Regions from separate parts of the Homo sapiens genome. Here all the other regions are linked to region 4. Evidence: fine-mapped expression QTL. A gene starts in region 4. Each other region holds a variant in brackets. All regions are shown on one strand. Distances are from middle to middle.

What was found. PIP is the estimated chance that this variant, and not a neighbour inherited with it, causes the effect.
Region 1: its variant is the best candidate, but not a certain one, in a credible set for the expression of PALLD in macrophages (Nedelec 2016, PIP 0.74).
Region 2: its variant is the best candidate, but not a certain one, in a credible set for the expression of PALLD in testis (GTEx, PIP 0.54).
Region 3: its variant is the best candidate, but not a certain one, in a credible set for the expression of PALLD in lymphoblastoid cells (TwinsUK, PIP 0.86).

The regions. Positions count from the first base shown.
Region 1 is chr4:168,794,298-168,802,386 of GRCh38, reverse strand. The region is part of intron 10 of PALLD (palladin, cytoskeletal associated protein); the gene reads right to left. Among named protein-coding and RNA genes, the nearest start is that of PALLD-AS1, 150 kb to the right of the region's middle. The variant A/G (reference allele first, on the strand shown) is at 3,231.
Region 2 is chr4:168,997,951-169,006,039 of GRCh38, reverse strand. CBR4 (carbonyl reductase 4) reads left to right here. Exons shown (of 5, transcript NM_032783.5): 4 at 3,835-3,969. It also overlaps the pseudogene RNY4P17. Among named protein-coding and RNA genes, the nearest start is that of CBR4, 8.3 kb to the left of the region's middle. The variant G/A (reference allele first, on the strand shown) is at 4,544.
Region 3 is chr4:168,677,056-168,685,144 of GRCh38, reverse strand. It overlaps PALLD (palladin, cytoskeletal associated protein), which reads right to left. Exons shown (of 22, transcript NM_001166108.2): 4 at 3,747-3,813; 5 at 2,042-2,147. Among named protein-coding and RNA genes, the nearest start is that of PALLD-AS1, 33 kb to the right of the region's middle. The variant TA/A (reference allele first, on the strand shown) is at 4,829.
Region 4 is chr4:168,492,911-168,500,999 of GRCh38, reverse strand. It overlaps PALLD (palladin, cytoskeletal associated protein), which reads right to left and starts at 3,948. Exons shown (of 22, transcript NM_001166108.2): 1 at 3,806-3,948. All of the region lies in intron 1 of LOC107986198 (a long non-coding RNA gene), which reads left to right.

The DNA.
Region 1 (8,089 bases), 300 kb before region 4:
ATTCCATGGTGTATAGGTACCACATTTTCTTTATCCAATCCTGGGACAATTTTCAGTGGGTGTAAAGTTTGTACCTCTGAGTGAGCCAAAAAGCAGTTTCCTAGTTCACGTAGATTTGTTTGAGCGATCCTATTGTTATGTAATATCTCTTGGTTTGTGGTGCTTGATCACTAAACTCTGGCTATGTGAGAAGATTCTAGAATTTAGGCCATGATATTGACTACACAGATAAAAGAGGCAGCAGTTTTTCTCAATGGAGCATTCCCGAGAAGTAACTCCCCAATTTTGTAGGCTCTCACATACTTCTTAAATGATGAGTGCACAAACAAAATAAAGTTATTGTGGCTGAGGCTGCTAGCTACTAACCTAATTCCATGTTCTCTTCTTCATGGAACATGGCTAGACTACTTTTCTCAGCCTATCTTGCAATTAGAACTCTTACAAATCAATAAGAAAAAGGCAGAGCCAAGCATTATCTAGTTGTTACCTATGCCACTCTCACCCTCTGGCTGAAGGAGAGATTCTTCATTTGTTCACATGGACCATGTCCTAGAGCTGGTGTTATTTATGGGGTGTTCAGGTGAGCAGCAGGCAGGTTCCCTGACACCCAGCGGTGCCTCTGCAAGCACGACGGGGTGTTAATCACAAAAGGAGAGACATCTTAACCCCTTTAATTACTTTACTTGGGTGTGGATTCTTAGTGATATCCTACTTTATCTGGGGGACTTGGGGGCAGGTCGTTCTCTTTGTCTTGTAAGCAATTATTTAAGATAATTTCTATCTGCACGTCTTTTAAAAAAATATTTACAGGCTGGGCGTGGTGGCTCACGCTTGTGATCCCAGCACTTTGGGAGGCCGAGGCGGGCAGATCACGAGGTCAGGAGATCGAGCCCATCCTGGCTAACGTGGTGAAACCCTGTCTCTACTAAAAATACAAAAAATTAGCTGGGTGTGGTGGCATGCGCCTATAATCCCAGCTACTCAGGAGGCTGAGGCAGGAAAATCGCTTGAACCCGGGAGGCAGAGGTTGCAGTGAGCCAAGATCGTGCCACTGCACTCCAGCCTGGGCAAGAGAGTGAGACTCCATCTCAGACAAACAAACAAACAAAAAAATTTTACACTTTAACAAAGAGTTATAGAGCAAACACCCAGATTGTAACCACTGCTCAGGTAAAAAAATAGAACAGAAGATTCCTGTGTGTGCCTCCCCCTCATACCCCTGGGTTTTCCCAGGGTAACCGCAATCCTGACTTGCAGAGTTATCATTTCCTTGATTTTCTTTCTAACTTTACTATTCAGTTATGCATCTCTGAGCAAGGTACTTGGTTTCTCCCTCCTTTTTCAGCTTTATATCAGTGGAATCTGACTGTATTCTTTTTGTCTGTATGCTTTTGTTCTATATTATGTGTGTAAGATTTATCATGTTGTTTCGTCTAGCTATAGTTCATTTATTTTAATTGCTGAATAATATTTAATTGAATTACTCTACCACAATTTCCTTACTTGTTCTACTGTTGATGGACTTCTGGAATATTTCCAGTTTGGGGTTATTATGAGCAGGGCTGCTATGTACATTTGGGTTACGTGTCTCTGGGTGCACGTATGTAAGCATTTCTTTGAGAAATATACTCAAGAGTGAAGTTTGCTAGGTCATAGAGTTTGCATAACTTTGAGTTTATCAAATTATGCCAAACTCTTTTCCAACGTGGTTTTTAACAATTTATACTCCCACTGGCAGTATATGAAATATCCTGTTACTTCACATCCTTGCCAGAACTTGGTATTATCAGGCTTAAATTTTTGCCAATTAAATGGGTGTGTAATGGTATCTCTGTTGTTTTAATTCATATTTTTCTTATTACTTAATGAGATTGAACATCTTTTCATGTTTATTAGCCATTTGAATTCTCTCTTTGGTGAAGTGGCTGTTCTACTTTTCACTTATTTATTTTTTATTGCCTGGTAGCTTTTAAAAATTGATTTGTACGAGTTCTTTATTTATTCCATTTGTAACCCACATATTCTGGTCCAGTGTTGTCTACATAAGTTGCAAATACTTTCCACCCTATGACTTGTCTTTTAATACTCCTTAGGGTGCCTTTTAATGATCAGAATTTTTTTATTTGAACTACTTATCAAATTTTTCCTTTATTATCTTTTTATGCCTTGTTTAATCCACCTGGAAGCAACTTTTGTATATAGCACAAGGAAGAAATTCCTTATAAAACAGAAGCATAAAAGTTAGCAAGTATTATTTATAAAAAGAGGAACTTTTAAAGCAAATGTTCTATATTTTTCTCCTTTACTACAGATATGAAGCCTGCCTCTGATAAGAGGGAAATAGATCTTCATGTACCTTTTTTAGGGACAACAAAGTATCTACCTTTGAATTCCCTTAAGAAGTAAGAATATGTAAGTGTGATAGGCCCTCATGTAAAAATCATCTCTTAGGGTACCCTATATAAGTGCATGAATACATACAGTACACAAATGCTCGTAAGTGCATGAACCATTTTTGAAAACATACATAGGAAATAGTTATAGTTGTTACCTGTGGGAATGTATTATTTACATTTTCTGCCTCAGGGAAAAGAATATAATGTTTAAGATAATTTCCATAGTAGCTTAACAGGAAAGTAGCATCAGATACACCAAAATTTATTCACATATGCTCTTTCAGGAACCCATCTATCCAACAGAAGTGCTGATTGTCAATTATTTTACACATGCTTTTCGCACACACACAAAAATCTTGGTTACTTAACAAGCACAGGAATTATTGCAATCCACAACTATACTGAATTGCCAGGTACTCAATCTTTTCTAAGCTATGGGACTTGAATTCCAAACCCTATTCCCAAATTCATTATCTGAATAAAAGGTAGCACAATTGATAAGGGATTTGCTCATAAGTTCAAGGTGAGTAGGAACAGTACGACTTAAAGAATTTGCATTAGAAATGTTTTGATGTTGAGAGACTTCGGTTACCTTTCCAATCAGCTGACTACCCTGGACAAAGCAAAGAACAAGGGTTTTCTCTTCTACGTCTGTTAAAACAAACTAAATATGGCCTGAGAAGGACTCTATACTTCTGTATTTGAGTCCTTGTGGATGAATTGCAACCTAACTTAATAGGTAAACAAGATTGACAGCCTAAAAGTTTGCATCTGTAACAGTGGTTGAGTCTTGGCCAATCCCAGCAGCCATACCTCAACCACTCACACACTGCC[A/G]AGTATTCAAACTGTGTACAAATAAGGCAAACACTGACCTGTAACCAATCCAGCTGTTTCTGTACTTCACTTCTGATTCCTGTACGTCACTTTATTATTATTATTTTTTGTCTATAAATTTGTTCTGACCACAAGGCACCCCCGGAGTCTCTCTGAATCTGCTGTGATTCTGCGGGCTGCCCGATTCATGATTCGTTCATTGCTCAATTAAACTCTTTTAAATTAAATTAAATTTGGCTGAAGATTTTCTTTTAACACTTCTTTCTGCATTTCCTACTGAACAATTTAGCTGTACAAAGAATTAACTATGAATTCTCTCACGCTTTAACAAATGAGACAGTTCAAGTTTACATGGGCAGCAATGAGTTAAGTATTATAGCAAATGAGTCAGAAAATACATATATTTTGAAAAAATTTAAAACATTTCAGCAGATACTTAATGTTTGTTTTAGTAGGATAAAAATCAGTTTACAATACGGTTCCACTTTTTAAAAATTTATATTTATGCATTAAAATTAACAGTGATTATTTCTACACAGGTAGGTTATAGTAAAGTTTTAATTTCCTCTGTGTTTTTCACTTACTTTCCAATGTTACTGCAAATCTGTATCTTTATCTATCTAAAGAGAAATAGATATTATAGTAGAAGCGGTAAGAAAATTTTACCAAATGCCTTAGTTTTAGTCATAAGAAGCTTTTTTTCTAATGTTAAAACTTTATAAGAAATGATAAATTTTACTCTATTTCCACAATTCAGAAAATGACACTTGCAAATTTTTAAGTTTGAAACCAACTTTTCAAAACAAACAAACAAAAAACCCTTTATTTTTCAACTTTTATTCCTTTACATATAATTTAAATTTCTCCTAGTGGCATTCTTATTTAGAGGAATTTACCAAACAGTATCCTTACCTTTGATATGGCAAGGCCTTTTAGATAAGAAAAAGGCTCCCCAACTGGGGAGGCACAGATAAGTGAGGTGTACTATCAAACATCTACTCATCATAGAAAGCATGCTGGAATGTACTCCACATTTCCTTACATTGCAAACCCTGAGCCTTGGCTCTATTAGTGTCGGGACAAAGCGGGTAACTGGGCAGACTTTTCATAAAAATAAGGTGGGGCTTGTTTGTGTGCAATTTTGAATGTGATACCCTTAACAAAAGTGTCTGGTTCTGATTTGATGACACTGAACTCAAGAAAAATAGCCAGATTAGGATCAGAAGGGAAGTTGCAAAATTTCCTGATTTGCTGAATATGACATTAATATACAGGGGGAAATATGCTTTGTAACGAGCAAGCGAGCAGCTGTATGGTGGTGGGGGTGGGGTTGAGGTGGTAGAAGAGGGAGCTAATATGGCAATCGGTATAACAACAAACAAAAATCTGAGCTAAATCAGCTGTGTGTTCAACTTCTCATTTGGTCTCTGATATTTTTTAAATTAACATATTTTTCTTGCAAGGTAACATATGGAATAGTTTGACCTTGCCAAGCAAACTGGCAATTCTGTGTTACCGTCACTTCTTCCAAGCCATCTCTTCAGAGTAAAGTTGAGAATATAAATTTGAAACATAAGCCCAGTTCTCACAAATCTAGTTTCTTTTTCGTAAGGCACCTGCTCTTTTCCAAGGCAAAAATGCCTCAAATTTCCTTGGGTATGAAATTATCCCAAAGTGATGTAATTGAGGGTGATCTGATAAACTCCTTTATTAGGAATTAACTCCCTGCGTGGGATGATGATGAACAGACAGATGAGTAGTTCTGTTTATACTGTTTGATTGTCACGGTGGTCTAAATATACTCAACTTTTGGATGACTCACAAAATATTGCTACATAGTATTTGGTAAAGGAGATTAGAAGTCAAAAACAGGATGGGGTGATATAGACAGAGGGATTTCAAAGCAAGCCTATGAACATTCGAAAGCATCAGAAAATCATTTGATTGTTTCTTTTTTTCTTTGCTCATCCAACTGTGTCTCCCTCAAGCCAAGTAATTTTTCAGGAGATAAAAATGTTCAAATATTCAAAGATTGGCACAGGTCAAAATCATAAGTGACCTGACATTACTACTGTACTTAGTTATAGTTTTGAAAGGAAAGTAGAGACAACTCAATTTGGTGAGTTTCTTGGGAAATAAAACAAGTAAAATTTCTTCCTTGAAGCACTATTCATTGCTTTTGTGGAACAGGCCAGGTATTCATAATAAAGCCCAGGGTAACTGTATTCACTAGAGACAGTTCAGGCAGAACAAAATGTACTTTGCTCCTTCTAGCTAAGCTTCACATGACCTCGAATTAGGAGACAAGGAAGGTAAAATGTGTTTTCTATAACAAATTTACTATTACTATGAAAAGGTAAGTGGGTATCCATCCCCTCAATTTGATCAAACTGCATTTTTATGAGAAATTCTATGATCTCATTTCCTGCATATGAATATTTTTAAACTTCTCTTCAAGCACCTAATGGCATTGACGTTCTGTAACATTTACAGAAGATATGCCATTTGAATACTTATCAGCCACCAGTGGTTTTCATCTCATAGATGGAACCTCTTACTCATTCCACAAATATTTATTAAGCATAGGCTATGGTTCAGATCCTGGGCCAAGAGTACAGGGCCCAGCGGAGAGCCAGATGGACTCCCTTCTAGCCTGGTGTACCTTAATAACTGCCAATCGTGCAAATAATGCATGATGAGACAGCAAGATCAGTTAGCTATCACAGGACAAGTGAAACAGCCAAACTGAATGTCAGACACCCGCCAGCAGTGACTGGTGTTCTCCTTTGCACTGGGCTCTGAGAAAGCATCATCAGAAATGTAAAACGACTTCTCTCCTCCTTATGTTTGGGGGATACAACAATTATTCTCAAGAAACAATTAGGCCAGCCTGGGCAAGATGGCAGACCCTGTCTCCATAAATACTAAAAAAATTAGTTAGAGCTGGGAAGGACAGTGGGGGGCAAGGTGGGAGGTGAGGGTGGTTGATGGGTACAAAAAAATAGAAGAATGAATAAGACCCAGTATTTGACTGCACAAAAGGGTGACTATAGTCAATAGGAACTTAATTGTACATTTAAAAATAACTAAAAGCATGTAATTGGATTGTTTGTAACACAAAGGATAAATGATTCAGGGGACGGGTACCCCATTCTCCATGATTTCACATTGTGATTATTTCACATTGCATGCCTGTATCAAAACATCTCATATACCCTATAAATATATACACCTACTATGTACCCACAAACATTAAACATAAAAAAAAATAAGTACAAAAAATAGCCAGATGTGGTGGTGCTTGCCTGTGGTCACAGCTACGGGGGAGTTTGAGGGGGGAGAATTCTGTTGAGCACAGAAATGTGAGGTGGCAGTGAGCTATAATCACACAACTGCACCCCAGCCTGGGTGATAAAGCAAGGCCCTGTCTCAAAAAAAAAAAAAAAGACAATTAGGGAAAAATATAAAGCAGTTCATGATTAGCTCCCAATTAACTGTATTCACTGCAGAGACCTGTGGGGAATAGAACATTCTATATTCATTCCTTAGAGCTCATCCACATAGGAACTTTTCTCAGGAAGATTTTCACATGTTAATCATTGAACTTTTTCAGGAAGATTCTCACATGTTAATCATTGTGGTGGACAACTGGAAAACCTCAGATGCTGTAGCGTTCATATTTTGTTGACAGCAACCAATATAATACATACATTTAAAATGGCAACATATATATACTTAATTATCTTAAATCACAAATTTTCCAAACAACACCTATTATGCATTCTTGATTTTTCTATTCTTTTTTCTACTCTTCGATTTCATTTTCAAATTGCCACTCAAGAACCTTTAAATTGATTTCACAACAGTGGGTTACCAAAAACACTGACAGGAATTGTACTTTTCAAATGGTGGTAAAGCTATATATAGTGCAGACATTGTGAGATCTTGCTAAAGACTGAATGTTTGTGTGTCCCTATAATTCTTATGTTGAAATCCTAATTGCTGGCGTGATGGTTTTAGGAGGTGGGACCTTTGGGAGGTGATTAGGTCACAAGGGTGGAACTCTCATGGATGAGAGTTTTAGCCCCAGAGCTCCCGGTCCCTTCCACCGCATGAGCACACAGTGAGAGGCCAGCCTTCTATGAAGCAGGAAGCCAACCCTCACCAAACACTGAATCTGCTGGTGCTTAGATCTGGGACTTCCCAGCCTCCAGAACTAGCAGAAATACATTTCTATTACTTATAAGCCACCCAGTCTATAATGGCTGGTTTCAGCAGCCCAAACAGAGTAAGACCATAAGAAAACACACTACTATGACTACCACTACTACTAATGATCGCTAATATTCATTGAGCATTTACTATTTACTAAGCACAGGGTTAAAGATATTACATGGCAATTCTTTCAGCCTCACTTTTGGCTGATTCCCCACAGGCTGTGAGCAGTAAGACAGATGCTGAACACTCTACCCACTGAAGGAAAGGGCTAAGCCACCATACCGAGAGGCTAAAAGACGGACGTGTAGGTTATGTCCACAGAGCCAGAAATCAGTTCTGCTAGCCTGGCCACTGATAACCCCTCTAGCTAGTGAAAGAGGGGTTGAGGCAGCCAGAGGGGTGTGTGTGTGTGTGTGTGTGTGTGTGTGTGTGCGTGTGTGTGTGCGTGCATGTGTGTGTGCGTGTGCACGTACGTCTGTGCGCTGCGCGTATGTCTATGTGTGTGCGCGCGCATGCGTGTGCGCATGTGTGTTGTGTCTTCCACCCTGGGGGAGGAGAGGATTGCTTTCCCCTCACCTTCAGTGAAGTGGGAGGGCCTCAAGAGGACCCCTTAGAGGGCCTGAGTAAGTCCCTTGGAATTT
Region 2 (8,089 bases), 510 kb before region 4:
AGCTGTGGAGTATATGCCTGTAGAACTTAAAATGCAAAATGACTTGAAATTTTATTTCAGTTTGGTAATTTGGAAATAATAGTATACCATCTGCTTTTTATTTTCAAATGGTAATACCTTAAAAGGCCACAGAAGGGAGATGCTGCTCCATAAAAGTAAGTGACCCTGTTCTTTTAAATGTAGGAAATGGTTTTTCAAGCCAGAATTTAGAGTTTTTCTGTTTTGAAAGTGAGAAAAGGAAAGAATACTATGCTAATAAACTAAGGGGACATGAGAGCATTTTGGACATTTACTCTTAAAAATTTAAGGGATCCGTTTTCTTATGTAAGAGATTAGTCAATGAGTCAACCTTTGCCTTTTAACACAGCCAGATAAGGACTTTGGATACTTACAAGCAGGCAAACAGGCCTGTATCTGTCACCTGATAACCTGAGGTATATTTGTTTAACTCTAAAATCTTCTTTTTTTTAGGTGTATTTAAAAAACCCATTAGTCCTCCTTATGCATGCAAAACTTTTAGAATTGAGCTAAAAGTAAATAATAGATAGTAAATTGAGAATCTTACTACAGGAAGGACTACTTTAAACTGCCAGACACTTCATTGGTATTTCAGAAATTACCACTTTTTGACCTGATGAACAGTAGTGCGTGGCACGAATCAAAGCTGCTAAAGCAGCTTGTGTTTTTTTTTCTTTTAAAAGCCACTCATATTTAGCAGTTGGGGGTTGTATACTAACTTTAGTGACACTACTGTTAATAGGTTCTGATAACCCGCTACCATCGGACCAGCCCTGTTTTGGTATTTTTTTCGTGCATGTATTTTTCTTTTTTTGTGTCTCTGTATTTTTCTTTCTGATAAACACCCCTCTATCCATATGCATTTCTTCAGTCTGATGTCTGTTCTCTCTGTGTACTTCACAGTTCTCTTCCTTTGTTATTAATTGGCCTACAATATATAATGTAGATAAATATTCTAATACTGAACTTGTTGATTCTAATAGAGAAATGTTTGGAATGTTTTCTTTTTTTAAAATTACTTTAAAAAAATTTTGTGAGGTCCTTGATTAATTTTTGTATCATAAGTACAGGTCAGTGGTGCAGAAAATTACTTCCCCACTTCTGTTTTGCAAGAGTTTATTTGCATATAGTTGATATTTGAATTAAAAATTATTATTACATATTCATTAGATGTGGTCACTCAAGAATCTTCAGTAGGCAGTACAGTTTACAATATATCACTGAATGTAATGAAATTGCACTTTTACAAAAAGTGTATAATTGAAGCTTTGCCAATTTAGATTGACAGTACAAGCATGTCTCGCAGATATTGTAGCTTTGGTTCTGCTCCACCGGAATAAAGCGAATATGTCAAGAATGTAAGTCACACAAATTGAATTGCTGCAATCTCATGATAAAACAAATGGGTGAGGAGTTGCTTCTTATGTATGGATAAACAAAGTTGTTTCTCAAGATGGAATCTACTTGTGAAGATGTGAATACTGTTGAAATGACAAAGGATTTAGAATATCCTATAAACTTAGTTGATAAAGCAATAGCAGGGATTGAGAGGAGAGGCTCCAATTTTTAAAGTTCTACTTGGATAAAATGCTATCAAAGAGCATCACATGCTGCAGAGAAATCTTTCATGAAATGAAGAGTCAATCAATGTGGCAAATTTTGTCTTATCCAATTGTTTAGTTTCTCAGTGCATGTAAAAGTTATATTATGGTCTATTAAGTATGCAGTAGCATTATATCTAAAAAAAATGTAAATACTTTGTTGCTAAAAAAATACTTTATTGCTAAAAAATGCTAATGATCATCTGAGCTTCTGGCAAGTCATAATCTTTGCTGGCGGAGGGTCTTGCCTTGATGTTTATGGCTGCTGACTGATAATAGTGGCTGTGGCAATTTCTTTATTTTTTTTATTTTTTTATTTTATTATTGTTATACTTTAAGTTTTAGGGTACCGTGCACAATGTGCAGGTTAGTTACATATGTATACATGTGCCATGCTGGTGTGCTGCACCCACTAACTCGTCATCTAGCGTTAGGTATATCTCCCAATGCTATCCCTCCCCGCTTCCCCCACCCCACAACAGTCCCCAGAGCGTGATGTTCCCCTTCCTGTGTCCATGTGTTCTCATTGTTCAGTTCCCACCTATGAGTGAGAACATGCGGTGTTTGGTTTTTTGTCCTTGCGATAGTTTACTGAGAATGATTTCCAATTTCATTCATGTCCCTACAAAGGACATGAACTCATCATTTTTTATGGCTGCTTAGTATTCCATGGTGTATATGTGCCACATTTTCTTAATCCAGTCTGTCATTGTTGCACATTTGATTTGGTTCCAAGTCTTAGAATAAGACAAAATTTGCCACATTGATTGACTCTTCATTTCGTGAGAGATTTCTCTGCAGCATGTGATGCTGTTTGATAGCATTTTATGCAAGTAGATCTTTAAAAATTGGAGCCACTCCTCTCAATCCCTGCTATTGCTTTATCAACTAAGTTTATAGGATATTCTAAATCCTTTGTCATTTCTTTCAACAGTATTCACATCTTCACAAGGAAGAGATTCCATCTTGAGAAACAACTTTGTTTATCCATACATAAGAAGCAACTCCTCACCCATTTGTTTTATCATAAGATTGCAGCAATTCAGTCACATCTTCAGGCTCCACTTGTAATTCTGCTCCACTGAAGTCTTGAACCCCACAAAGTCATCCATGAGGGTTAAAATAACTTCTTTCAAACTTCTGTTAATGTTGGTATTTTGACCTGCCATGAATCACAAATGTTCTGAATGGCATATAGAACGGTGAATCCTTTCCAGAAGGCTTTTAATTTACTTTGCCCAGATTCCTAAGAGGAATTACTATTTATGACTGCTATAGACTTATAAAATGTTTCTTAAATAAGACTTGAAAGTCAGAATTATCCCTTGATCCATGAGCTGAAGAAAGGATATTGTGTTAACAGGCACGAAAACAACATTAATCTCCTTGTACATATCCATCAGAGCTCTTTGGTGACCAGATGCATTGTCAGTGAGCAGTAATATTTTGTTTGTGGCACCCCAACAGCAGTAAACATCAAGAATCACTGATCACAGATCATTATAACAGATGTAATAATAATGAAAAAATTTAAGATGGTATGAAAATTACCAAAATGTGACAAAGAGACACAGAGTGAGCACTGCTCACAGTGAGCCATGGTGTTGGAAAAGTGCTAATAGAATTGCTTGTTGCAAGGTTGCTACAAGCCTTCAATTTGTTAAAAAAAAAAAAAAAAAATGCAATATCTGCAAAGCACAATAAAGCAGAACAATAAAATGAGTTATGCATGTAATTCAATTTTAGTGAGATTTAGCTTCAAATGAACTAGTTTTTAGGGTGAAAACGAGAGCTTTCTGCCTTATGTCTGTGTTGTAGAATCATAAAATTAGTCAGCTTTTGTCTGACTTTTTCTGGCTTTAACCTCTACCTGCTGGAAGCCTTTATAAATACCACAGAATTTTCATCATATCTGACCTACTCAGAGATTAGAGTGCATCCCCTTCACGTAGTGAATCAATTCGCAAGCACCTGCATTGGCAGTTTTGTATCAGCTGCTTTCAGATGCTATTTTCTGTATGTATCTGGAGCAGACTTGGACTCTTAAATCTTCCGTAAATGACTGATGACAATGGTTAGAATTTCTAATTTTAACAAAGGACAAGGTGAAGTGGGTTTTACCTTTTTGTTTACTATAAATTATCTAAATTTTCAAGTAACCCCATTAATTGAATTTAATACGCTTTTTTTTTTTTTTTTTTTTTTTTTGTCCTAGGAAGCATTGTTGGCTTAAAAGGCAACTCTGGCCAGTCCGTTTACAGTGCCAGTAAAGGAGGATTAGTTGGATTTTCACGTGCTCTTGCTAAAGAGGTAGCAAGAAAGAAAATTAGAGTGAATGTAGTTGCACCAGGTTAGTGAAAACTTTATTAAAATAACTTGATTATGATTATTGTTTTATAGGGAAGCCATTATTTGGAACATTAGTAATTGACATCTGGGTAGAATAGTTTGTAAAATGATTGTGAAAAGAATCAAATAATGAACTGGGGGACTCAAAAAAATTTTTTGTACCTCATATTCTATATAAAGTCTATGTGTTAGCCTGTTTGCATTGCTCTAAAGGACTGTCTGAGGTAATTCATAAAAAAAAGAGGCTTATTTGGCTCTCGGGCCTGCAGGCTGTACAAGCATGACACCAACATCTGCTCAGCTTCTGGTGAGGCCCAGGAAACTTTTTTTCAGTCATGGCGGAAGGTAAAGAGGTAGCAGCCAAGTCATATGGGGATAGCAGGAGCAAGAGAGAGAGGAGGTGGCAGGCTCTAAACAACCAGCTCTGGCATGAACTAACAGTGAGAACTCATTATTTACCATGTGGAGGGCACCAAGCTATTCATGAGGAATCCGCCTCCATGACCCAAACACCTCCCGCTAGGCCCACCTCCAACATTGGGAATCACATTTCAACATGAGATTTGGAGGGGACA[G/A]ACATCCAAACCATAAGAGTCTTTATTTTTAAATTTTGCACTAGTGGAATAACTTAAGGTGGAGAGGGTCTTAGAAATAATTTTTTCCAGTCATTTTTGTAGATTAGAAAACTGTACCTGGGATTCAGAGTGACTTGCCTAAGGTTACACAGCTAGTTTATGGAAGAACTGTTACTAAAAGCTTTGTCTTTTGATTTCCACCTAATGGGAGCTTAAAAATAATGTCCTACCAGGTATGGTAGCTCATGTGGGAGGCTGAGGCAGGAGTATTGTGAGGCCAGGAGTTCCAGATCAGCCTGAGCAACATAGCAAGATGCTGTCTGTACCGAAAAAAAAAAAAAAAAATTAGCTGGGTGTGGTGGTGCACACCTATAGTCCCAGCTATTTGGGAGGCTGAAGCAGGAGGATTGCTGGAGTCCAGGAGTTGGAGGTTGCAGTGAGCTATGATCATGCCATTGTACTCCAGCCTAGGTGACAGAGCGAGACCCTGTTGAGACCCTGTCTCTATAAAAATTAAAAAAAAAATTCTTTTTAGATTTTCTTTATATCATTACACAAACTTTAGATAGTTTTGTCCTTTTACTACTATGGTCTGTCTAAACTATCTGGAACCTCCCATTTTCCTAATTTTTACTTTTCCATTATTTGCCTTTCGCCAGGGTACTAGTTGATAAAATTGCCTGGATTAATGAAGAGGGTAATAAAAAGGTGCTAAAACTCAAAAATATATGATCACTAATTAGCTGGTGTGCTAGAAATTTTGATTAGGTATTTACTTGGTTTTTGAGTAACACAAGTGTTTTTATCTACCTCTGCCAGTTAGCCATGGAATCTTTGTCCTAGCCTACTGTAGGTACTTAAGAATTAATCACCTATATAAGAAAAGGCAGTTTATTTTGGTTTGCTGGTCCTTTGTAAGAAAGAGAGGGCTGAAGTAGACCTTTGCTACCTTTCCCTTTCCGGTCACTAATGGCTCCAGCTTGGACCTTACAGTTGGTGTTTTCTTTGGCACTGAAGTTGAGCCAGCAGGTATCAGGGATTTATCAAAATATCCTATTAACCCTTTTGGTCTATAGTGTGTCTTTATTTCAATTCTTTTCTTTTCTTTTTTTTTTTTCTCATAGCAACTAGCTACATTCAGACATTCTAAATCTATGAATATTTGATAAGTGACTGTGGTTCAGATACATCTATTTGCTGGGAGTAGGGAGAGAAAGAAAAAGAAAAAACAATCCAGAAGCAGCATTGTTGTTATCTTAGCACTGTTTTCTCTTTGTGTATGCTTTATGCAAGCTGATTGATTTTTAGCGTTAGCCTAGATGAACTATCTGTGGAATAAATTATTTGTGGTTTGGAACTACATGTATTTGCTTCCTTCTCTTTTCAGGATTGGAATACTGTGGGTAATGAAGGGTTAATTTTAGTTCATGATAATACAAAAGCTGAATGGTTTCGGGGAATGGAAGTGTACTTAGCTAACAATAACTCATGCAGCAAACTTTCTGGCATGTCTCCTACGTGTAGGGACTGAGCTAGCTCCCCAAATTACAGGAATGAATAAGATATTTCTGCACAAGGAGCTAAGTATAGTGAAAAAGACTGACATGTAAACAAATAATTGCAGTGTCATATGACGAATATAAAATAGAGGTACATATATGGTGCTATAGAAATGTTGAAGAAGGAAAGAATGCTTAATTTTGTCTAGTTTAGAGTAAATAGTTGTCAAGGCAGTAGACTAAATAGTGGGAATCCAGTTTGCATACTAAGGGGAAGTTTTAAGATTGTTATGGAAGTGTGGTTGTAGTCTTTCTTTCTTAAAGATTTTACTTTCCAGTGCAGTTTTTTTTTTTTTTTTTTGAAAGTGGTGGTTTTATTTATCACTCCCCTTTTTTGTTGAGCATACAACCCTTATAGAGCATAATATATATTTATATATTATGGATTTCCAGTGCAATTTATACTACAGATAAAAACCTGTAGCTGAAAATGTGGCCATTTAATAGAGTGGCCTTTATGTATATTTAGCAGATTTGATGGTATGAATATGCATCATTTGTCAGAAGCAAAGTGCAACTTGAAATAGTAGAATTAAATCAGTTCTGTGGATTACTTACCAACTTTATTTTAGATAGTAATTTCAACCAGATTCTTCAACAGATCTTGTAACACAGCTAACAAACATCACAGTTAACAAATATGTGTCCTTTTATGTCAGTTTTCCTGGTCACCTTCAAATGGAGTTTCCAATTAGCAGGAAAACAGTTTAAAAGCAAATTATAACAGGAAAAGCAAGGAACAAGGAAAATAATAAATTAGGCTGCGATTCATTGCCTAATACTGTTGACTTTTTAAAGATCAATAGCTGCTAATCTTTGGTATTACTTTAAATATAAAATAAACTGTTCATGGGAAATCATACTGATTGGAAGATATTGAATATTAGAAATAATATTTGATAAATGGAAACTGTAATGGCTGTATTACCTTAAAAAATATGTGTTTTGAATAGATAATACATATAGTACGAAATTCAAAAGTACAAAAAGGCATAAAGAGTCTTTTCTCCTCTGGACATTCAGTTACTTAAAAGTAGTTGCTGTTAACTACAAAGTTTCTTTTGTATTTCATATATAAGCCAATAAAGCATGCTGGGCATGAGTGTAAGAAAACACAAATTGTATCATGCAATTCACAGCTTTCTGTATCTTCCTTTATTCATAGAACAAGATACCTTGGTGATGTTTCTGTGTTATTCCATATAGAGCTGCTTCACTTTTTTAAATAACAGCTTTGTGGAAATACAATTCACATACCATACAATTCACCCATTTAAAGTTTACAATTCAGTCAATTCAGTGGTTTTAGTATAGTCCCAGAATTGTTCAATCTTCACCACAGTAAATTTTAGAACGTTTTCATCATCCTTAAAGAAATCCTAAACCCATTAACATTCATTCCCTATTTCTTTCCAATCTCCCCAGTACACTAAACTACTTTCTGTATCTACAGATTTGCATATTCTGGACATTTCATATAAATTGAATCATGTAATATTTGGTGTTTTGTGACTGTTATGTCACTTTTAATGACTGAATGAAAACAGAAAATGATGTTTGTTTTAAAGGTATACCTAATTTATTTAACCTGTTGCCTTTTGATGGACATTTAGTTTTGTTCTGAACTTTTTCTGTTACAACTAATGATGCAGTGACAATACTTGTATGGAGTTTATTTTGCACATTTGCAAGTATATGAGTGTAATCTTGGGACTGGAACTGCAAAGGCTTCAGAGGTATGTGCATTTTTAATTTTGACAAATAGTATTATGTTTATTTCTACAGGATACCTTAAGTGTTTCAGTACTTTATTTTTTAAGTTGAAGAGCTTTTATGTTTACTACTTGGAGAAAATCTTGTTGACAAAGATTTGCATGAGTTTGTTAGCTACTCAGAGAAGATATTCTAAGTGTTCTTATGTGCTGTTTGGAATGAAGTTGATTTCCCACTCTGCTTCCCTCTACAAATATAATATTAAGACATAGAA
Region 3 (8,089 bases), 180 kb before region 4:
TTTTAAATACAGTTTGGATTCAATGCATAAAAGCCATTGGCTATTGGCACTGGAGGGTAAATTATCAAACATCTACCTATCTTATTTAACTTGTACTCTTTTTTGATATAGGGATTATGGGAAAGGAGAGAAAAGAATTTTTTTTTATTGACGTGCAAAAAAGAAACGTGCTAAAATACCTATTCAATGACATTCATCTCTGGAGAAATATAAGGATTTCAGAGTAGTGAATGGAAAATATTTCTTTGTGTACTATCACTTATTTTTAAATGATCTGGATTTATTCACTTATGTAAGTGGTTGTTAGCTTCTTAACCCAAGATGATGGTGATCTGGTATCGTGTGTCTAAATATGCCACAGGACATCATGAAGAATTGTGGCAGAGCGGTAGAGATGCTAGGATGCTAATGGAGTTTATTCATTAACCCTGGAAGACTTTACTGGCCTGTGATTCAAGAGGTCTGGGTTTCACTTTTCACTGTCTTTTTATGTCCCAAGAATATGTGAACACTCTTATAGTATTAATATTTACTCTATGCCAGGGACTGTTCCAAGTGTCATATGAAGATTAACTCACTGGATCTTCAGGACAAACTTATGAGATACATAGTGTTATCATCTTCATTTTACAGATGAAGAAACTCGGCTTGAAGGGTTACATTTTATTTGCTTAAGGTCCCTCCGTTAGGAAGTGATAGAACTGGGATTCAAACCCAGGGAGTCTGGTTCCAGAGCATTACTTGATGTCACATTGCCTGCAATAATAAAGCGATGGAGTTTCTCTGGGTGCTTCATTCTCCCAACTATAAACATGGGGTAAATTACCTTCCATTCCATGTCTTTGTAGAATTTAATCCATTTAAAAATTCACTCTTTACATTATTATGGTATTTACATATCTAGATGTGTGTGTATCTCTCTATTTCCTAGGCTTCTGTCTTACATCTAAATACATTCTGTCACATTCACCCCATTTGGGAATGGGGTGGGTGACATTTTTTCCTGTCATGAAATGCCTAGCACCGTACTAAGCACTCAATAAATATTTATCAATATTTAAACATCAAATACCAAAAAATGCCCACTGATTTAATCAAATATTTCTATAAATTCCACTCTGATTAAGGGGTTTAAAGGAAATATGTACTATATATGCCATCTCTGAGTAACTGATACTTGTTGATTCAAGTTTATGGACCCAAATGTCTTCTCTCTACTGTTTGTATTTTCCACATATCGATAGCACCTATTGGCCTCTATAGTGGCTGAAACACCCCTGAGCATTCAATAGGTAATAAAGGCTGAGGGAGGACATGGTGATACTTATAAGACATACTCATTACTTAGGAATGAGTTTACATTTCCAGACTGTGGGGGAAAACCTTTCTGTGAGTGTTGTCTTTGAACATATTCATTAAACCATGATTTAGAGACATCCAGATGTAATGGTTTTCTACTTTTTTTTTTAAAAGAAGTTCATATTGTTTGTGTTTGCAAAGTAAATTCATTACAACTACTTTCCAGTAGTTTATATTATTGTTCTTTCATGGCTATAGCAGTCTTACAATAAAATAAAAGCAAGATCAAAAAGCATGGTGAAGTCAAGGAATTTGAGTTGTTTTTTCTTATTTGTTTAGCTTTTAGGAGTGGGAAAGCTTTTTGTTGGTATGCAGACTTGTCTTTTAATTTGTAATGAGCTAATAAATTTGGCTATATGAAAGAGCATACACATGTGAGGGAATAATCAAATAGTTACAGCTAAAACAGACACCAGTTTATCAGATTATTAGCTGTTAGAGAAAGAAGTTCCCAATGGAAATGCAAATGTTGACTAATTGGCAGTGTGGTTTTGGTTAAAGGTTGTTTTTAGTGAACTGAAAGGAGAAACATTACCTACAATTTTCTTTGCTCTGAATTTTGTGTCCACTTAGAAAATATTTCAAGGGAGTATACTAGTTAGAATCAAAGTCATATTCTTAAAATCCACAAGTTTGCTGATGAGTTCGACCCCTTATGGGCTCTGGCTCAAAGCATACTTACCTGTTGCACAGGGACAGACAGTGGTTGAATCACAGCTGTGGTCACCCCTGTCTTTGGAGATGATGATCCTATTGTCAAGGAAACAGAAGTTGTTTTCTTTTGAGCTCTGGAAAATAGGAAGGTGAGTGTTTAGTCAGAATATTTTTTGTTTTCGTTTTTTTGTTTTTTTTTTTTAGCAGAAATAATTCCTTGAAACGTTTCAACAGAAAAGCTGGGTTTCTTTTTGTATACGCAATCCGCTTCAACTGTAATTGCTTCCACAATGGGAATGCATAACCTACAGCTAGAATAGCTGTGGTCAGTATATACATGTACCTTATAGAATGTACCTTATAGACATTAAGCAAAATCAAAACATGAGTAAAAGAAAAGTAGCTAGATGTAACTGAGACGCTGTTGAAGATGCTAACGTATTAAACTTGAAAATCCTAAGAGAAAATATTTGGAAAAAATCCAATCTTTATTGATAAGCAGAGATTTGAAATGTTTAGGGTTAGGGTCCTATATTTAACTCAAAGTTTTGGTTGTCTATTTTAAGTCTAACAGCTGTTCTTTTTTCTGGTTTCTAATTTTGTTGTCGGTATCTTGGAATTTTTGTGTTTTCTTAGTGCATATAAGTTAGTGAGATATTTAGAGAAGATTAAGAAGAGTTGATTTCTAGGCCCAGCTTTGTCAAGTAGCTGGCTGTGAAATCTGAAGCAAGCCATGTAACTTCACTAAACTTGAGCTCCTTATAAAAACCAGGGGTGGTAAAATAACCTTAGAAGATCCTTTAAGCATCACTGATTATTTGATGCTGAATGGATATAATTTTTATGTACATACTAGCAGATAAAAGAAATTTATTAGAACAGACTCAATATTTATGGACTTTTCCATAATAGGAATTTCTGGTAGATTTTATTTTTGCCAAATAATTAAGATATTAACATTTTAATAATTGGTATGTCTTTGTAGGAATAACTAAGTTTTGTGAATTTCGGGTACAAGATCTAAATAAATATAGATCGTATCCAAAGGAGAACCTACTTCTGGCCTAATTAGATATTTTCCAACTTGCATAAATAAATTGGTCCTCACATTTTAGTAATGATTTAATTGATTTTCTCTTAATGTGACTTCTCTTTCCATACATTTATAATAAATTAGATGGCTGTCTTTGAAACTAACATTGCATATGGTAAAATTCTGGCATATCAATGATGAAATGCAGACTTCAAAGTTCAAATTTACAAGTTAAAAATTGTGTTCGGGCTGGACATGTTGGCTCATGCCTATAATCCCTCCCAACAATTTGGGAAGCTGAGGCAGGAGGATCGCTTGAGTCCAAGAGTTCCAGATGAGCCTGGACAACACAGTGAGACCCCATCTCTACCAAAAAATAAAAAAAGATTAGCCAGGTGTGGTGGTGTATGCCTATAATCCCAGCTACTTGGGAGGCTAAAGTAGGAGGACCACTTGAGCCTGGGAGGTCAAGGCTTCAGTGAGCCATGTCGCACCACCGTACTTCAACCTGGGTGACAGAGTGAGACCCTGTCTCAAAAAAAAAAAAAAAAAAAAAAATTGTGTTCCAACCTCAGTATTTGATCTCTGATTAACATCAGTTGACTTTTTTCTTCAAAGCACAGCAAACATGGTTTCATACCCCAACCATTCTGTTGCCATTCTTTGTTTCCACATAATCGATGGAATTGTAGGCACTTACTGTGGCATAGCTCCAGCTCTTGATTTGAAAGCTAAACTTTCACTGTCAGAATCTGTTGAACTGGCACCTGGGAAAGTATTAAAGATAATGGTAAAGTTAAGATATCAGTGTTATCTATAATAATTGCAAAGAATTATATTTCCCTTAAATAAAATAACATACAAAGTCTTTTTGACCGAAACACACAATAAAATAGAGTGATTCAGGCTCAGACAATTTTTTATTTGTACTGTTTCTTCAGAAACTCATTTTTAAAAAGTACTACTATAAATAGCTTTCTTCAAAGCAATATACTTTTAATGACAGATTTATTATTAATTTCATTTTTATCACTGTGGTCATCACAACCGTACTTTTAAATGGCTATAAACTATGAAATAAAGATGTGTGTGTGTTTGTGTGAAGAATACCCACGCTTTTAAACTGTAACCTTCTCCAGAGATTGCAGGGTAAGGACTGATGCTTTCTGGCTCCTGGGTAAAACTGAGTATGACAGTGGTTCTGTTCTTGAATAAGAGGGCCTTTGATTTTGGATCATGCCTTCCCAAATTCACTTGCATTATTACTGTTCTTAAATAAAGGGTCAACTTACCAGATTTTTAGTCAAAAGGTAAACTGCAGTCAGATTTTGATGTTTACATATTTCATGTCAAGAGATTTTAGGTGACAGACTTAAAAAATTGCAATGGTTCAAAGTATATTCTTAATGTTTCCAAGATACATTTAACTTGGGTCACTTATATTCTTTTATATAATAATACATGCTTATAGGAAAATAACCATATAGCACAGAATTGTGCAGCCTAATAGTAAAGATCAGTGGGTACCTTCCTAAATGCCATTCCCAAATACCACATTAAGTCTGATGTGTATTGTTCCAGATAAGTGTTTTTTTTTTTTTTTTTTTTTTTTTTTTTGAGACGGAATCTTGCTCTGTCACCCAGGCTGGAGTGCAGTGGCGCAATCTTGGCTCACTGCAACCTCTGCCTCCTGGGTTCAAGTGATTCTCCTGCCTTCTGAGTGGCTGGGATTACAGGCATGTGCCACCTCGCCCTGCTAATTTTTGTATTTTTTTTTTTTTT[TA/A]GCAGAGATGGGGTTTCACCATGTTGGCCAGGCTGGTCTCGAACTCCTGACCTCAAGTGATCTGCCCACCTCGGCCTCCCAAAGTGCTGGGATTACAGGCGTGAGCCACCGCACATGGCCTGGATAAGTTTAATACAGCATATCAACATATTTACATTTATGTACATATTTATACAAATGGATTCACATGGCATGTTCACTTGGCATTTGGCTACTTTTGCCTATCAGTAGATTTAGAATACATACGTTCACTGCATTCTCTTGGATAGCTGCCTGGTATTCCTTCCAGTGACTCTACTGTGATATGTTTTCCAGTCTTTTATTGACATTGAAAACAGTCATGTTTAGGTAACTCTGCTGGAATGTTTGCTGTCCCTTCCTATTTATTTCTGTGTCTACCATCCAGTGTAGGCTTTCTTTGCCTGGGGCCTGGACTACCACAATCCATTCTTGTCTTCCCATCTCCTCCTTCTCAAATTCATCGTTGCCCTCCCTGTGTCGGCTAGATTTTCCTAGAGCACACTTTCCCTGTTAAAAATGAGATGATTAGAATCTCTACTCAGTAAAATAAAAAACCCCAAATTTGTCATTTAATGGCCCTCATGATTTCCAACTTCATTTTCTACCTCTATCTGCCAGAACTTCTTGGACTTCCAAGTCATGTAACCTTAAGTCAGAGAGCTGAGTTCACCTGCACATCTAATGGTGTGCACTCCATAAGTAAGGGGGATACGCAGTGAAGAGGACACACACACACACCCCACCACACACTCCCCACACACCATATCCATACATACCCCACCACACACAAACACACACACCCCACCACACACCACACCCCCCCACACACGTCCATACTCACCCCACCACACACACACCCCACACATCCATACCCTACCACACGCACACACCCCACAGCACACCACACACACACACACACCCACACACATCCATACTCACCCCACCACACACCCACCACACACATATACCCCCCACCGCACACCACACACACACCCCCCACACACATCCATACTCACCCCACCACACACACCCCACCACACACCACACACACACCCCACACACACCACACACACACACCCCACACACATCCATACTCACCCCACCACACACACACCCCACCACACACCATGCACACACACCCCCCACACACCACATCCATACTCACCCCACCACACACACACACACACCCACCATAAACACCCCAAACACATCCATACTCACCCCACCACACACGCACCTACACACACCCACACCACACACACACACCACACACTATACCCATGCTACACATACCCACACCACGCACACACCGTACCCACACCACACACATCACACCCACACACACACCACACACACCCTGCCACACCCACTGCACATACACACACCACACATACACACCTCACCACACCACCACACACACGCCACACCCACACGACACACCACACACACCACACACGCACACCATACCCCCCCACACACCATACCCACATCCACTACGTACACCACACACACACACACACATACCCCTCTGATCTTGTGAGGACACAGAAGAGAAATAAGTACATGATACGGTGGTGAGTGAAGCAGGAAAGTCATCAAGCAGGGGAGGGGCACGGGCTGTGATGGGACTTCCCGGGGGGCTGCAATTTTAAGGATGGTGGCAAGGAAGCCTCCCCTAGGACACAGAGAAAGTGGGGACTCTCTCTCCCTGCTTGTTTTCCATGCCTGTACCTTAGTCATAGTTTTCACTCCTTAGGAAACTCCTATCCATCTTTTCTTGATACGCTATCTTCCACGGTCAGCCCAGGCACTATTCTGTGCTCTTTCTCTGAACTCCCAGCGTTCTTGTTTACAGCACTCACGTCACCTAGAATATCATGCCTGCTAGAAAATGATGAGTTCCCTGAGGATGGACGCTGGGTTAGAAAGGGAACTACCAATTTTTGCATATGTCCTATGTGCCCGGCGTCTGCTGGGCACTTTACCTCATTTAATCATCATCATAATGAACCTCACTAAGAAGTGAATTATGTCCAATTTATAGACAAGGACACCAAGGAACCAAGAGGTGAAGTAATTGAAGGTCACATAACTAGAAAGCAGTGGTGACAGGCAAAGCACTGTTGTTGTTGAGCCTCGTGGTCTGTGACCTTGCCCCCACACCACGTGACCTCCAGGTGGCCTTCATGAGGTGCGCGCGTGTGAGTTCCTCAGAGGGCCTAGCTTCATGCCTTCCTCATACACACCTTCCAGGCTTCTGCTGGAATGAAGAAAGAGAACTGGGAAGTGGTAAAGCTTGTCTGGGGACGAGGCGCAGATCGTGCAAGGAGAGAGGAGCAGCAGGCTGGGGGCAGTAACGGGAGGCAAATCTCGAAACACAGGCAGGACTGGGACGCTGGGGCTGACTTGTTTGAACCTGGTCGTGTAGGCACCGAGAGTGGGGGCTGGAAAAGTCAGTGTGCAGGATTAACTGGCGGAGTAGGGACACAAACGGGGCAAACAACAAACCATCAAAAACAAGTTATGGGCCAGGAGAAGTTTTCTCTGTGATGAGGAGATGCAGGGAGCTGAGAAACCCTGAGGAAAAGCCAGTGAAGGCGATCAGAAGGTCGGGGGTGACCCGGGAGACCATTTTACTGGAATCATAAAAGCATTTAGGAGAAGGGGAGGGGTGGCAAAAACCATATGGAAGTTATCACACACACTCTCAAGGTAGCGAAAAATTGGGGAGAGAAAACAGTTACTTTTCACCTGATTCAAAATGTTTCAATCATTAAAAAACAAAAAATTCCTTCTGATGACCTCTCTTTAGAAAGCCATTCTTGCTACTTTTTTCCAGCTGATTTTCAAAGGAAAAAGGGGCCAAAAAGGCTGGGGCCCCCTGAATAAACACACATTTGCTAGCTTTTGCACACCTGTCCAACCCTTGTGAAATCTGAAAGTCACCTTACATCTCAGGTGTCAGAGCAGCTCTTGGAGACGGGGGCAGATCAAATCTCCCTCTCTGTGCCAGCCAGTTCCCTGCCTTCCCCTCAGGGCGATTCTCCCGCCCTCTCCCACTCTGTTCCCACTTCAGTCATCTGCTTTGCACCTGCTGGTCAGGAGAAAAAAAAAAAAACAACACTACGGAGTCTCAGGTTAACGTCTTTCTCCATATTTATTAACCGTCACTTTCAGTTTTGGATGTAGGCTCCAGTCTGAAAGAGTTACATGTTCTAGCCCTTGTAGTTACTATCATC
Region 4 (8,089 bases):
TATAGAACATATAAATAAGTTTTCATTGGTATGTATATTACACATTTGACATAAGTAATTTTGTGAATCTTATCTTGGCATGACTATCCTAATATTTGGCAAAACATTTATTTTTTAGATCCTGAATATGTACTATAGGCATAAATGTATATGGTTCACATTCATATATGAATATACAAATGATAGAAAAAATAGACAAATTTAAAAATTATGACTACCATTTGCCTTTAAAGTTGCTGACTTTTGGGGATAGATTACCTGAAAGCCAGCTCTATGATATTTGGGAGAATCCTCTATGTTGTCAGTTAAGAAATATTTATAGGGGGCTGGGCATGGTGGCTCACATCTGTACTCCCAGCACTGTTGGAGGCTGAGGCAGGAAGATCGCTTGAGCCCAGGAGTTCAATACCAGCCTGGGCAACATAGTTAGATTTCATCTCTACAAAAATACAAAAAAAAACCCAAAAACTTAGCTGAGTGTGATGGTGTGTGCCTGTAGCCCCAGCTACTCCAGAGGCTGAGGTGGGAGGATTGTCTGAGTCCAAGAGTTCTAGGCTGCAGTGAGCGATGATCAGGTCACTGCATTCCAGCTTGGGCAAAAGAGTGAGACCCTGACTCAAAAAACAAACAAACAAGACTTATGGGACCACCCCCTGGCATGATCCCCATGAATCAAGGCACTATTGACTGTTGAAATTACAACAGATTTCTTTGACGTGGAGGAACTTGGGGAAGACAAGGAATATACATGAGAAAGAGCAGAGTCTAGTAAGTAGAAAGAATTCAGTGACAATGCAAGTTGTTCCTACATAACAGCTTGGAAGTTACCTGCTTTCAAAAGTGAACAGTTTGATCCTCAGAACAATCCATGTAGTAGATGTTATTTTTCTATTTTATTGTTTGTATTACCCACAACTGCAGCAGAAAAAGTTTCAATTATTTGGCCCAACCTGAGCCATCAGAAAGTGGCAGACTCAGGGTGGAAGCCTGCATTTAACTGCAAAGTTTTCTTCTCTCATTGGAGATATTATAGGAAATTACTTTAAAAATTTAGATAAGGGGAAAACTTTTGAAGTCTGTTTGTGAAATACTTTGAGTCGATGAAGAACTGCTACAATTTTGAAAGAAAAAGTTTGATGTTAGAAAAACATTGACAGGCAGTAAGGATCACTTAATACCATGTACCACATTCAGCAGATTCTTTAGAGAGTCCAGGTGGAATAGCTAAATTCCCATAGTCATTTAAAAATGTATACATAGATAGGAATAAATATATGAAAATGGTTGGAATAACATACACCAAACAATCAACACTGACCTCTGTGGGGGGATTTAGGCAGGGGTAGGAGTTGAAAGGTGGGACATGCAGGGGGATCTTTTGTTGCTTATTTTGTAATTTTTGAAAAAAAGTTATAAGTGATTTTTAATTTTAGGTTTAGCAGTTTTATTTTCATATTTAAGCAATTACTAAAAAAGTAATGCAAACCATTGATACAAATATTAGATATTGAAATATCTTTTAATAAAACCTAAACTATGAAAACCAAAGTTAGAAAAGCTTTAACACTTAATTTTCATGCTTCAGAATCACAGGCAACCCCCCTAGACTAAATCAATAAAGTCCCTCCCTTCCTCCCTCCCCCCTCCCTCCCTTCTGCCTCCCTTCCCCCTTCTTCCATGTCTCCCTCCCTTCCTCCCTCCCATCCTCCCTCCCATCCTCCCTCCCATCCTCCCTCCCTTCCTCCCTCCCTTCTCCCTTCCTTCTTCCCCGTCTCCCTTTCTTTCTTCCTTCCTTTTTTTTTTTTTTTTTTTTTTTTTTGCTACAAAGGGTCCTTTAGGGCAAAAGTCAAACACGAAAATTTTATGAAATTTTATGTTTGATGCAGAAAATGCACTACAATTTTATAATTTATTTCTTAATAAATACACATGGATTATTTTCCTTTCTAATTATTAAATTGTCAATGCAGGCAGATATATTTATCCTACAGTTTTAAATATCTCTTTAAACAGCTTATTTAATCTCAATTTCAAGGACATAATCTAATAGCTCATTTAATGCAGAAACAGCCAAATAAGATACTTTACAGAGTTTTTGAAGTTATCCCATGTCCTGTTCATCTTATCAACTTTATTCACCATACTGAGTCCATTGCAAATATTTAGATTTTACTTCTGAATTATCCATTTCCATTACCATTATCCAATTCAGGGCTTTATTCTTCTCACTTAAATTCAAAACCTATTTACCAAATTTGCTTCTATATTCTCTAATATGATTTAACAGTTAGAAATTTTAGTCGAAGATACTTTGTTCAATCTTTGTTTTCTTTGCTGTAATTTCACCGGGACACAGTCATTAACTCTAGATGGCCTGAATTTCTAACTGGAGCTCAGTAATTGCAATACCCTTTGACAGCCTCCACACACATATTGTTTAAGAAGTGGAGCTCTTGTCTGGGCCTTGCAGATTCCACTTGGTATCTCTTAAAGAACTTGTCATATTTATTTTTAAACCTGAATAATGATTGCCCTCTACATTTTTAAAAAATGAGGTAAGGAGGTCAAAGTGATTGTACTTGTCCAGTGCAATCCAGATCCTCATTCTATTGTGAAATATGCTATAAGGCCAGTTTTAATATTCAGCTCTAGCAATAACAGAGAAACCCAGAGGAAGAGCTGACACAGAACCCCTGGGATACAGACCCTAATCCATACCAGATTCTAGGATGCCAGAGGACTAATTTATATTCTAGGAATGTGTAATCATGTATTTACAGGGCAGTTAGTGGCCAGATAAACCTCATCGGCCTTTTCTGCTGTTAGCAATAACTTGTCAAAGAGACTTTGATTTTAAAAATCTGAAAAAAAAATCTGAATAATTGAGGTGAGTATTCAAGTTCTTTCTGTGAGAAAAAACATTGGAAGGCACATTTATCATGAAATGAGGATTTAATTTCTGCATATATGTGATTGAATAGATTTGTAATAGTTTTATATTGCCAAGAAATGGCTTTATATGTCACCACATTATTCATACTAGAAGGCAATTAGTATTTTTAGCAAATGTTAATAAGTAATATGAGCCTGAAATCATTTTATGTCAACCTCCTATATTGGATTCAAGACAATTTCATGTGCAACTTAAAACAACATGATAAAAATTATTCTGTGATGTTTAAACTTGACTGGACTCGAGATTGCACTGTGGTTTCCCTTAGTAAGCGTTATCTTATTAAAAATATGTATGTAAATTTTATGCATGAATATAATTTAAAATACCTGCTGTTACTATCCCAACTCATTTAATTATGTCCAGTGAGTTACTTTTAGAATCTTTTGAAAGTGTAATTAACAATTTATAATGTTACTGAAATCTAAGGTCTATCACTTTAAGCCATCATCACTTATCTAGCTTAAATATGGGTGAGGGTCTAGAAAGCTGCGTTTTCCTTTTCTGTGAAACATAACACATACACGATCTTGACAAAAGCTGGCTCCATAAATACATTTAATCCTTTTGGAATTGATAGCACCATCTTAGCATGCTTAAGCTTATAACAGAAAGTGTAATTCTCTGACAGCAAAGGCAGAGATGAAGTGGGCAGGCAAATCTTACGTATTATCTGTTTTTGGCAAAACCGTAACATTCTCATTACGTTTCCTCTCCAAGCAAAAGAATAATTAAGGTATCTTGTAAATAGTATCATATCTTCAGAAAAACTTTTGTATTTTTAGTTTTTTTTTTTTTAAGTCCTTAAAATGTTGCCCTACTAGTTAGTATATTAAGATACACCTTACAGACCTTTTCAATGCTTGGTCAGTTTGAAGACTCCAGAGAGGTGATGAATTTCAGATGAGCATTTCTTCTTTTCTGGGAGAATGGAGGTTGTGGCCTTGCCTATTCATTAGAGACTGCCTGGTCCGTGGTCACTTTGAGGCAACTGTGGCCTCAGACTCTCATCTGTCCTCTTACTCCACTCAGCTATATTTGGTAACTGAGCTCATGTTTCAGCAGACTGCCACGATCAGGAATTCCAGCAGCGGGCTGGGAAGCACCCCCAGGACCGAGGGCTGGGTTCTTAGAAATAAAGCCACTTAACATAGAAGGAACTATATTTATGGATCTGATAAACGTAGGATTTAAACACATTCTTCTATACTTTGGACTTGTAGCTGGAAATCACCACCTGGACCTTTAACATGTTCTTAATCAATTTAAAGTACAGTATGTGACTCCAAGTAGAAAAAGTGATAATCCAAATGGAAGCTCTTCTTACTCTGATCTTCTGTTCTGTGCATTTAAATTTTGGTCATGTGCTAGATTACCCTAAAATAGTAAATTCAGTAACTGAAAATTTAGCCACCTGTCAAATTGAGTGGAAAGTCCCATTGTTCTCTTATTTCATATTGCTAATTAAAAATTGATATATGACTATGGTATGTATTAAAGGCCTTGTCTATAATAGTATTAAATAAGTATGAACACACAGGGACTGGATCTTATCCACATTGCAACATTGAGTTCTTAGCTCAATGCCTAGGACATCATGAGCATCTCTTAAATATTTGTCAAAGAAATAAATGAATGTTGAATGAATAATATTCAGGAAAAGTATCAACCCTCTTACAGTTGCAAAAAATGTTTCACAATCATTTAATATTTTGATCTTTCAAATGACAAATAGATATAGCAAGAGTTTAATATTTTGATCTTTTAAATAACAAACATAGATAGCAAGAAGAGAAAGCTTTTCTGTTTAAAGGTCAGGTAGCAGAATCAAATATAAGGGGGGCAAAAAGAGCAACACAAAAGCTCCCAGTTAACTTGGAAATGGGGTGCTGAGTCTTCCTTTGTCTGGGTAAGACCATCACATTTGATTCAGTTTAATATCTAAATATTTTTTCTTTTCTGATGTTAGAAAATTTGTGAAGGTCTGCTATTGTATTTTCTTTATAGGCCAAACTGGTCCTTTAGAAATGGTCCTTTCTGTGAGTGGATACTTCTGTGGGTCATTTCATCTATTATATTAATTAAGAAGTGATTTTAAAATTTATACTTACGGCTGGGCGTGGTGGCTTATGCCTGTAATTGCAGTACTTTGGGAGGCCGAGGTGGGTGGATCATGAGGTCAGGAGATTGAGACCATCCTGGCTAACACAGTGAAACCCCCTCTCTACTAAAAATACAAAAAATTAGCTGGGCGTGGTGGCGGGTGCCTGTAGTCCCAGCCACTTGGGAGGCTGAGGCAGGAGAATGGTGTGAACCCGGGAGGCGGAGCTTGCAGTGAGCCGAGATCCCATCACTGCACTCCAGCCTGGGTGACAGAGCGAGACTCCTTCTTAAAAAAAATAAAAATAAAAATAAAAAAATAAAATTTATACTTACAAGGAAATATAACTCTGATTGATTGTCTTAGTTTGTGTCATTATAACAAAATGCCACAGACTGGGTAATTTACAAAGAACAGAAATTGATTTCTCATAGTTCTGGAGGCTGGGAAGTCTAAGATCAAGGTGCCAGCAGGTTTGTTGTCTGGTGAAGTTCCTGTCTCTGCTTCCACAGTGATGCCTTGAGCACTGTGTCCTCACATGGCAGAAGGTGGAAGGGCAAGAGGGGGTCAAACTTCCTCCATCAAGCCCTAAGGGCATCAAATCCCATTCATGAGGAGTCCTCCTGAATCACCTTCTAAACGTTACACCTCCTGATACTGTTGCATAGGGGATTAGGAATCAACAAAAATTTTGAAGGGGACAAAAACCTTCAAACCATAGCATTGCTTAAACACATATTTATATCTGCTTTTTCCTAAAACCACAAGATAATAGTAAAAACTGAAAAGGGCAGAAATTGGGAGGGAAGACAATAGAAGATATCAGAAATGAACAAAATTGTTGGAAAGAGATAAATATAAGTATGCATGTAACTAAATTACAAAGCTTAAATGCCTGCAGGAGGAGATACAGAAAAGAAGCAAGTGATTCACCCCATGGAGTCTCAGAAAGGCTTGGGAATAGGAAGCAGTGAACCCATCTTTAGAAATAATTTTAATTGGCAACTCTGATTTTTGCCTCTGCCTTCTGGTGAACTGTGAGTCTCATGGTGAATTCCAGAGGCAATCATGTTGGACTACTGGCCAGACGAGGCCTCTCCCACATTTCTTTGGATTGCTTGGTTCCTAAATCCTGGTATAACACCAGTGAAGTGATGAAGCCATAAGAAGAAAAAAGAAAAAAAAACAGCTTGTGGTCCTGAGAGAGGCTTCAAAGATGGATATGACTTTACTCAAAAGGACACAGAAATGTGACCTTTTTGTGTGTGTATTGCAAATAGTGCAGCAAACCAAGCTTGTTTTAAAAATCTTATAAGAAGTTCTTTTCCTTAGAAAATTGGCATCAAAAAAATTTAGAAAGTTTGATCAACACTCTTAAGTTAGTATAGCAAGGTCCAGTTGATATTAAGGATGAGATTAGTGTGTGGACAGTAATATCATTTCTCATGCACTTTCATATTTTCCACCAGAGCCCATTTCTGTGTGCACGAAGGTTGGGAAAGGGAGTCTGTGGCTCCTTCATGGGGCTCCAGTTCAGCTTTCAAATGATTACTTCTTCTTATAGAAATTCCTGCTCTTTTGAAGCACTTATATTTGCATCAACCATCCTCCATCCCACTTTTTAAAATTAAGACTTTGGATCTAGTTGGGCTCTTGGTTCTCTTCTTCACTCCACACCCTGCCATTATTCTGGGTGACTCAGCACCCATTTGTCTATTCTATATGTTGGCATATTGGTTTTGGACCTGCTTTTCTCTATGAATCTTCATCTCTGTTCCTCTTACAGATCACACAAACAGACCTCCTCCACCTCCAAAATCAGATATAACTTATCTACTGCTTCATAACAAATTACTGCAAAAATTAATGTCTTAAAACAATATATATTTGTTATTTCACACAGTTTCTATGTGTCAGGAATCCATTAGTCTTAGCTGGGTAATTCCAGATCAGGGTATCATGAGATAGTACTGAAGATGTTGCCCCAGCTTCTTTCAGGTGGAAGCATGGCTGGGGCTGGAAAATCTGCTTCCAAGGCAGCTCACTCACGTGCCTGGAAAGTTAGTCCTGTTATTGGCTGGAACCCTGTTGACTTCTCTGTGTCACTGCCTGAGTTTCCTAGCTTCATGGCAGCTGGATTGTGCCACAATGTCTTTTTTTTTAAAGTGGAGTTTTGCTCTTGTTGCTGGAGTGCAGTGGCATGACCTCAGCTCACTGCAACCTCCACCTCCTGGGTTCAAGTGATTCTCCTGCCTCAGCCTCCCAAGTAGCTGGGATTACAGGTGCCCACCACCACGCCCAGATATTTTTTTGTATTTTTAGTAGAGATGGGGTTTCACCATGTTGGCCAGGCTGGTCACAAACTCCTGACCTCAGGTGATCCACCCACCTCAGCCTCCCATAGTTTTGGGATTACAGGTGTGAGCCACCGCGCCCGGCCCCATTATATCTTTTATGATCCAGCCTTGGAGGTCATATTTCGTCTTTCCCGCAGTATCCTTTAGTTATACAAATTGGCAGTATCCACTGTGGGAGGAGACTGCATAGAGGCGTAAAAACCAGTTGGCAAGACAATGCATTGGTGGTCATCTTGGCAGTTGGCTACCACACCTCTATTCCCTTTAACCCATCAGTCCTATAGCCACATTGGGGCATGCTCTGTTTTCACAACTGCACGTTCAAACATGTTATTTGACTGTAAACTTTCTTCCTCTAGCTCTCTCATACACTGATTTTTCTTCTTCACCAGAATTTCCAGGCTGTAGATCACTCTGTTTTGAGATTATCTATCAGTCTGCCTCCCAGGTTCAGGTCAATCGAGGATACTGGTTTACAAACTTTGTTTTAGGAGATACAAACTCTTGGGCAGCCAATAGAAAAAGTAAAGGTATTCAAAGTTTCCTTGATGAAAGGGGTGTGCAAAGGAATGCAGCAGACTTGCTCATTCATCCCCCTTGGACGTTTTCTTTTTCTTACGATCCAGGAAGTTTGAAAATCCTAAGTTTCAAGAAACAAGTCTACTTACTCCCTTTTCA